Homo sapiens: one gene and its partner. The protein of the gene in region 1 purifies or fractionates together with the protein of each later gene. This does not show direct contact. Each region holds a gene or a part of one and is shown in the gene's direction. Other genes may lie near its edges.

Region 1 (3,371 bases):
GGGAGAATGAAAAGATCAACTATTAAAAAGCTGTCCATGCCGGGCTCAGTGGCTCACGCCTGTAATCCCAGCACTTTGGGAGGCCAAGGCAGGCGAATCACCTGAGGTCAGGAGTTCGAGACACGCCTGGCCAACATGGTGAAACCCTGTCTCTACTAAAAATACAAAAAAACTTAGCCAGGCATGGTGGTGGGCATCTGTAATCTCAGCTACTCGGGAGGCTGAGGCAGGAGAATCACCTGTACCTGGGAGGTGGAGGTTGCAGTGAGCCAAGATCACACCATTACATTCCAGCCTGGGCAACAAGAGCAAAACTCCATCTCAAAAAAAAAAAAAAAAAGCAAGCTGTCAGTCAGTCTCTTACTAAAAAGCTTGCTAAAACCTCTGTGCTTGTGCCCAATTGTTTTACGTCTTGTTCTATATTTTAGCAAAATTGCAGCAAGGATTTCCTCTGTCCAATCCACACAAATTCTTATTCGTCAATTCAGATATTGAAGTTCTTGAGGTAAGAATGCAAATCTCACCTCTTAACTGACCCATTTCTTTTTATAGTAGACTAAGCCTCCTCCTGTTTTGCTTGTTTTTGTTGTTGTTGTTTGTTTTTGTCCTGCTTTGCTTTTTCCCAGACCAGGGAATCTTATAAACATGTTTAGTTCTTAAATCACAATTAACAGAAAATATTTAGAGTTGAGTCTAAAAATCAGACCAAGATCAATTTCACTTAGCAGCCAAATCCACAGTATAAGAAGATGCCCCTTAGCACGCTTTATTTTACTTATTCCACAAGACAATCTGTAAGGCTGGAATTATTAGTCCCATTTTACAGATGAGGAAAGGAGGACTCAGAGAGAAGTGGCTCAGGCAGCTGGAAAGGAGCATGGCTGGGACAGGACTGGCTCTTCTGATTCTCCCAGTCAGAAGACTTTCCCCTGAACCAAAGGCACACACCTTTGAGTTCAGGGATCGAATCGTTTTCCGGCTCATCATTATGCATTCACTTCAGAATACCTTTTTTTCTTTCTTTCTTTTTGGCATTGTTGTTTGTTTGGGGAGGTGGAAATATGTTTCTAAAGAAATTCTCCAATCCTGTACAGTCCAGGGGTCCCCAACACCCAGGCCCAGGACCTGTCCCGGTCTGTGGCCTGTTAGGAACCTGGTTGCACAGCTGGAGGTGAGCGGCCGAGGAGTGAACATTACTGCCTGAGCTCCACCTCCTACCAGATCAGCAGCAACATTAGATTCTCATAGGAGCACAAACCCTATTGTGAACTGCCTGTGCAAGGGATTTAGGTTGCACGCTCCTTATGAGAATCTAACTAATGCCTGATGATCTGAGGTGGAACAGTTTCATCCCGAAACCATCCCCCAATCCCAGTCAGTGGAAAAATTGTCTTCCATGAAACCAGTCGCTAATGCCAAAAAGGCTGGGGACCGCTGCCCTACACTACCGTGCATGCTCTCCCACTTCCCTGCTTCTCCCCCACTGCTTCTACAATGGCTAAGTCACATCGGGTGACAGTACTCCAAAATGGCCTTTCCTTTCTCTGGGGCATTCACAAAGTAGGGCCAGGGTAGAGGAGGGCCTGACTCTCTGTAGGACCTGGTAAAGAAACCATCTCTCAGCTGGGCATGGTGGCTCATGCTTGTAATCCTAGCACTTTGGGAGGCTGAGGTGGTCAGGAGTTCGAGACCAGCCTGGCCAAAATGGTGAAACCCTGTCTCTACTAAAAATACAAAAATTAGCCGGGTGTGGTGGCACACACCTGTAGTCCCAGCTGCTTGGGAGACTGAGGCACGAGAATCACTTGAAACCGAGGGACGGAGCTTGCAGTGAGCCAAGATCGCACCACCACACTCCAGCCTGGGCGACAGCCTTTGAGACTCCATCTCAAAATTAAAATAATAAAAAAAAGAAGCCATCTCTTCCTCACGCCTCAGACAAACCCAGACATGCCCAAGTTTTGACGTTATCTTCATTGTCACATCCTTTCCAGGGTTTCCTTTTGATTTCCACCGACCTGAAGTATGAAACATCCTCAAAGCAGCAGCCAAGTTTCCACGTATGGGAAGGTCTGAACCTGATAAGCAGACAGTGGAGGGGGAAGTCAGCCCCTTGATTGCCGGTTTGCAATTCACCCCAGGAAGTAAATGGTCCTTAATCCTACAACTACTGTAAACCCAGAAGGGAAAGACAGTACACACTGGAATTGTAAAGCCCTTGTGAATTGCTTAGGCAGAAAGTTTTCTTTCTTAAGCCTTCAGGAACCCAGAATAAGGCAGACTCTGTTAAAGGGATAAATAGAGGTGTCTGAATGTGAGTGTATGCATGCTGCGTGTGTCTGTGTTTATGTTTGTTTGTTTGTTTGGGGCAAGAAAGATTCTAGGACAAGAGCTAGGCATGTACTTCTGACCAGGTGGGTAAGCAACTCTAAGTCTGTATTTGTATTGGTCATTCTCAGTGGAAATCCCTTAGGCCCTCTAGTGGTTTTCCCCTACCTGCATATTGGTTTTCATGTTTTATATTCACTGTTACTATCTTCTGTGTTTAATTAAAATTGTTTTCTATCAACTTCAATCTTGGTTTTTTTATTTGAGAAATGGCCTGCCCTGAATTTTTAAAAAATAAAATAAGAGGCCAGCCACAGTAGGCCATGCCTGTAATCCCAGCACTTTAGGAGGCCAAGGTGGGCGGATCATGAGGTCAAGAGGTCGAGACTATCCTGGCCAACATGGTGAAACCCAGTCTCTACTAAAAATACAAAAATTAACTGGGAGTGGTGGCACGCACCTGTAGTCCCAGCTGCTTGGGAGGCTGAGGCAGGAGAATCGCTTGAACCTGGGAGGCGGAGGTTGCAGTGAGCCGAGATGGCACCACTGCACTCCAGCCTGGCGACAGAGCAAGACTCCAACTCAAAAAAATAATAAAATAAAATAAGACATAGAAAAGGGAAGAGACCTAAGGTTGCACAGACATCAAGGCTTGATTTTAAAAGAGAATTCTTTACCTCTGAAATCTTTCCAAGAAGGAACAGGGTAACCACAGGAAACTCTAAAAGTTGTATCACTTCAAGCTTTGGGATTTTTCACCCACCACAGATTCAATGAAATGGCAGTGCAGAGTACTAAACTCAGACAATTCATAACTGAGAATGATATTAATGTGTCAGAGCACCTAATCAATGGGGAGAAATTGGGGCAGAAGAGAAGAAAAGCGGAACCAGTGTAGATAATGCAACAAATGAATGGAAACTACATACTGTTTTTTGCAGCACTTACAGTCTAGTGGGGGAATGGAAAGAGGAGAGCTGTTTATAGAGTGCTTGCCGTGTGCCAAGCCCCGTGCTGATTACCCCTCCAGTGTCACTTCATTT
Region 2 (3,719 bases), on another chromosome or scaffold:
AGGCTATTTCAGATTAAAACACTTCCAATGTTCACCGGCTGCCCCCTTCTACCTTTGTCCAAAGCCCATATTTGACCCCCGGTTAAACATTTTACAGTCATATCCCAGGCCACAAAGGCAGGTTTCGTGCAAACAAAACTGACCTTCCTCCCCCCTACTCTCCGCACTGTTAATTCTTTCCCACCCGCTGGGACCAACACCTTTTCCTCTGCTCCTGCTCCTTCTTCCACACACTTTGACTCACTGCTCTTTTATTCCTAAACACTCTGGAAAACCTGCAAACACTTGTGATCTCTTGATGTCAGCCCGATCAGGTGCTCTTTTCCTCTCATTTTATATGCCATCTGAGAGCTGCTAGATGGGTCATGGGTTTAAAGGAGTATTTAAAGCAATAGTAACTTAATAGCCAGAGCTCAGCTGACATCCTCCCCCAGGGCTGTGGGGCTGGCTGGGCCTCTACCTTTTGAACAGCAATTGTAGGAAAGATTGAAGGAACATGCTCCAGCCAACACGTGGGAATGTTACTTCACTTCAAGACCTAAAAATAGGCAGGTCTGGCGGGGCGTGGTGGCTCACGCCTGTAATCCCAGCACTTTGGGAGGCCAGGACGAGTGGATCACGAGGTCAGGAGTTTGAGACCAGCCTGACCAACATGGTGAAACCCCGTGTCTACTAAAAATACAAAAATTAGCTGGGCGTGGTGGCGCACGCCTGTAATCCCAGTTACTCAGGAGGCTGAGGCAGGAGAATCACTTGAACCCGGGAAGCAGAGGTTGCGGTGAGCTGAGATTACACCACTGCACTCTAGCCTGGGCAACAGAGTGAGACTCTGTCTCAAAAAGAAAAAAAAAAAAAGGCAGGTTTGTGTTTACCTAGTTCCTCTGTATCCAGACAGCTCATTCGTGCAATTTTGCTGGTAAGTTCGCCATTTTTCCATCAGCAAAATTTAGGGTGGGGACCGATCCACACATCTTCTGTCCTCCCCTAAATAAAGAAAAGGCCCAGAGCATTCTTTGGCATTTTGTCATCTGATAAAACTGTCACATCCAAATTTCATGTCCCCATCACCCCATATAATTCAATTTTGTGCCAATTTGCAGCCGTTCTCCTTGATAGCATCATCCCTTCTCTTTATGTAAAGGTCATTCAATCTAATGCCATCTTAGCAATTATACCAAGTGTGTCTTTGCACTGGATTTGAACAAATCATGAACTCCATTTTATTTTTCTGCTTCACAGAATCCAACAAGATAGAACCATCTCTTCATAGCCTCCAGAAATTTGTTCCTACAGATTACGCCAGCTACACTCAGGAGCATTATCGGTTTGCAGGAAAGGAGATTGTCATCCAGGAATCCATAGAGAGTTACGGAGCGGTGGTGTGGCCAGGGGTGAGAGAACTGTCATATTTGTGATGTCAGGATTTCTGGAGATAACAATTCCGTACTTCAGAGTTGCCTTGGACAATTTGTCAAGTTCCTTCATATCCTGCTTCTCAATTTGAGGTTCAGTTGCTTGCCCCCTGGAGGGTGTTGGTGGAGTGCTTGGGATCAGCAAAAACAGTGTTTCTTTCAGAAACACTGGTTTTGCTTCAAGCTCTGTTTCTCGAAACATTATTTTTATATTAAATAAACTCAGCTATATGAGGAAGTGAATGCAAAACTTGTATAAATTGTTAAGAATAAACCCAGGGATTTAGAGTTTAGATTTTGCAGTGGGCATCTCCGAGCCACGCCCATCGACCCTCAGCCATTCATCTCTCTCTTTTTTTTTTTTTTCTTTTGAGATGGAGTCTCACTCTGTTACCCAGGCTGGAGTGCAGTGACACGATCTTGGCTCACTGCAACCTCCACCTCCTGGGTTCATGCAATTCTCCTGCCTCAGCCTCCCGAGTAGCTGGGACTACAGGTGCGCGCCACCATGCCTGGCTAATTTTTGTATTTTTAGTAGAGATAGGGTTTCACCATATTGGCCAGGCTGGTCTTGAACTCCTGACCTCAAGTGATCTGCCCACCTCGGCCTCCCAAAGTGCTGGGATTACAAGCGTGAACCACCACGCCCGGCCGGCCAGCCATTCATCTCTTTTCCATGGGGGCTGTGTCGGTAGGGATGTTTAGGAAGCATGACTTTGTGGCATGTCACCCCTGCCACAGCCCTGAGAGGATGGCGCTGAAATGGGGGCAGTCCTCTGGATTTTTAGTCAGAAAAGCTGCCATTTCAGGGCTGGGTAGTCACAAATGTTCACCTCACCTCCGTTTGCCTTCATTTCCATATTTAAAACCTAGGGTGGTCGTAATGTCTACAGTGCTCCTGACGTGGTTGTCAGAATTGTGAGAATTAATTTCAGATTGTGAGATTAAATGAAGTCCTAGCGTAAGCTCACATGAACTGTCCTCATTAATGTAATATTCTTTCCACCTTTCAGCTGAGGAAATGGGAACGCAGGCCAGTCTGCTGGCGTGGTAAAGCTCCCGACTGGGGTGCAGGGCAGAGCCAAGATAGACAGTGGCCCTCAGAGCCAGTGTGGTTGCTTTTCCCACTGCGGATGTTGTCAGTGATTAGAAAGGCTCCAGATCAGAAGTTCTCAATCTGCAGTCTTGTTAAAATGCGGATTCTGATTCAGGAGGTCTTACACATTCCGGGGTGATGCCTATCTGCTGGGCCAGGGTGCCCACATTGAGTATTCCTGGTTAGTGGTTCCACGGGGCTCCCTCAGGTCATCTGGCGATGGCACAGGATGGGGAGAAGGGTAGCCAAAGGGCTTCAGGCTCTTAGGTGTCGACCTTCACTCACTCCCAAACAGGGAGCTCTATTTTTACACCTTATGCATATAATTTCCTTCAACTAAAGGCTTTTCTTTGCCTTAAAAACGAGTTTGAAAATCACCAAACTACTCACAGCTTCCTATTGTAACACATTCAGCAAATAGACGACAGCAGTGGTGTAGCGAGAAAGTGGTATAGTAAGAGATCAGAGGCCGGGCATGTGGCTTATGCCTGTAATCCCAGCACTTTCAGAAGCCGAGGCAAGAGGATCGCTTGAGCTCAGGAGTTTGAGACCAGCCTGGGCAACATAGTGAGACCCCATCTCCCTTTTAAAAATAATAATTTTAAAAAAAAGATCAGAAATTGAAAAAAGAATATTTGTCCCCCTGTTTTATTCTGAACAAGGTATCACTCATGCACCAAACACTAGCCTCTCATGAAACCTGCTTCCTGAAAGCTGCACAAGAAGGGCATCTAGAGTGGGAAGGCGCCCTTTTCCTGTGCGACTTCAGGTGCAACTCTGTGAAAAGATCTCTTCAGAGTTTGCTAACAGGACAAGGGGCTGGCGGGGGAATGTTTGCAATGTCAAAAGACACAGCTGTCCCTGAGAAAAGCTTTGTCTCCGCATGACACCCTGCGGCCAGCCCCTCACAGGGCAGGGCACCAGGAAGGACCCCTGCAGCCATCTCCAGGAAGTTCCTCAGAGCTGCCCTCTGAATGGCTCTAGGTGACACTCTTTTCCTGACATTGACCCCCTCCTCCCAGCCCCCACAGCAAATACTTCTCTTCTCTCCTTAAGGACCAAAGAACTCCTTTCTTCAAAACTTCCCTTCTAAGCTCTGGAGCTCCCTGCAGCGTGCTGCAGTTGGTGCTATTTATGTCACACCATGTTGCTATTTTACCCACCGCCCTGGCCTTCCACACCAGCTGGCTTCTCCCCGGCCCCATGAAGTC

The links.
Region 2: the proteins of BPIFC (region 1) and METTL21C purify together in Homo sapiens (affinity purification with mass spectrometry; one large-scale study listed by BioGRID and IntAct). This does not show direct contact.

Annotation. Positions count from the first base shown.
Region 1 is NC_000022.11:32,413,049-32,416,419, reverse strand, and holds the end of BPIFC (BPI fold-containing family C protein precursor), read left to right. Parts: intron 1-428; coding exon 429-505; intron 506-1,994; coding exon 1,995-2,117; 3' UTR 2,118-2,575; downstream 2,576-3,371.
Region 2 is NC_000013.11:102,688,485-102,692,203, reverse strand, and holds part of METTL21C (protein-lysine methyltransferase METTL21C), read left to right. Parts: intron 1-1,239; coding exon 1,240-1,391; intron 1,392-3,719. UniProt on the Homo sapiens protein: Protein-lysine N-methyltransferase using S-adenosyl-L-methionine as methyl donor. Mono-di and trimethylates 'Lys-943' of AARS1.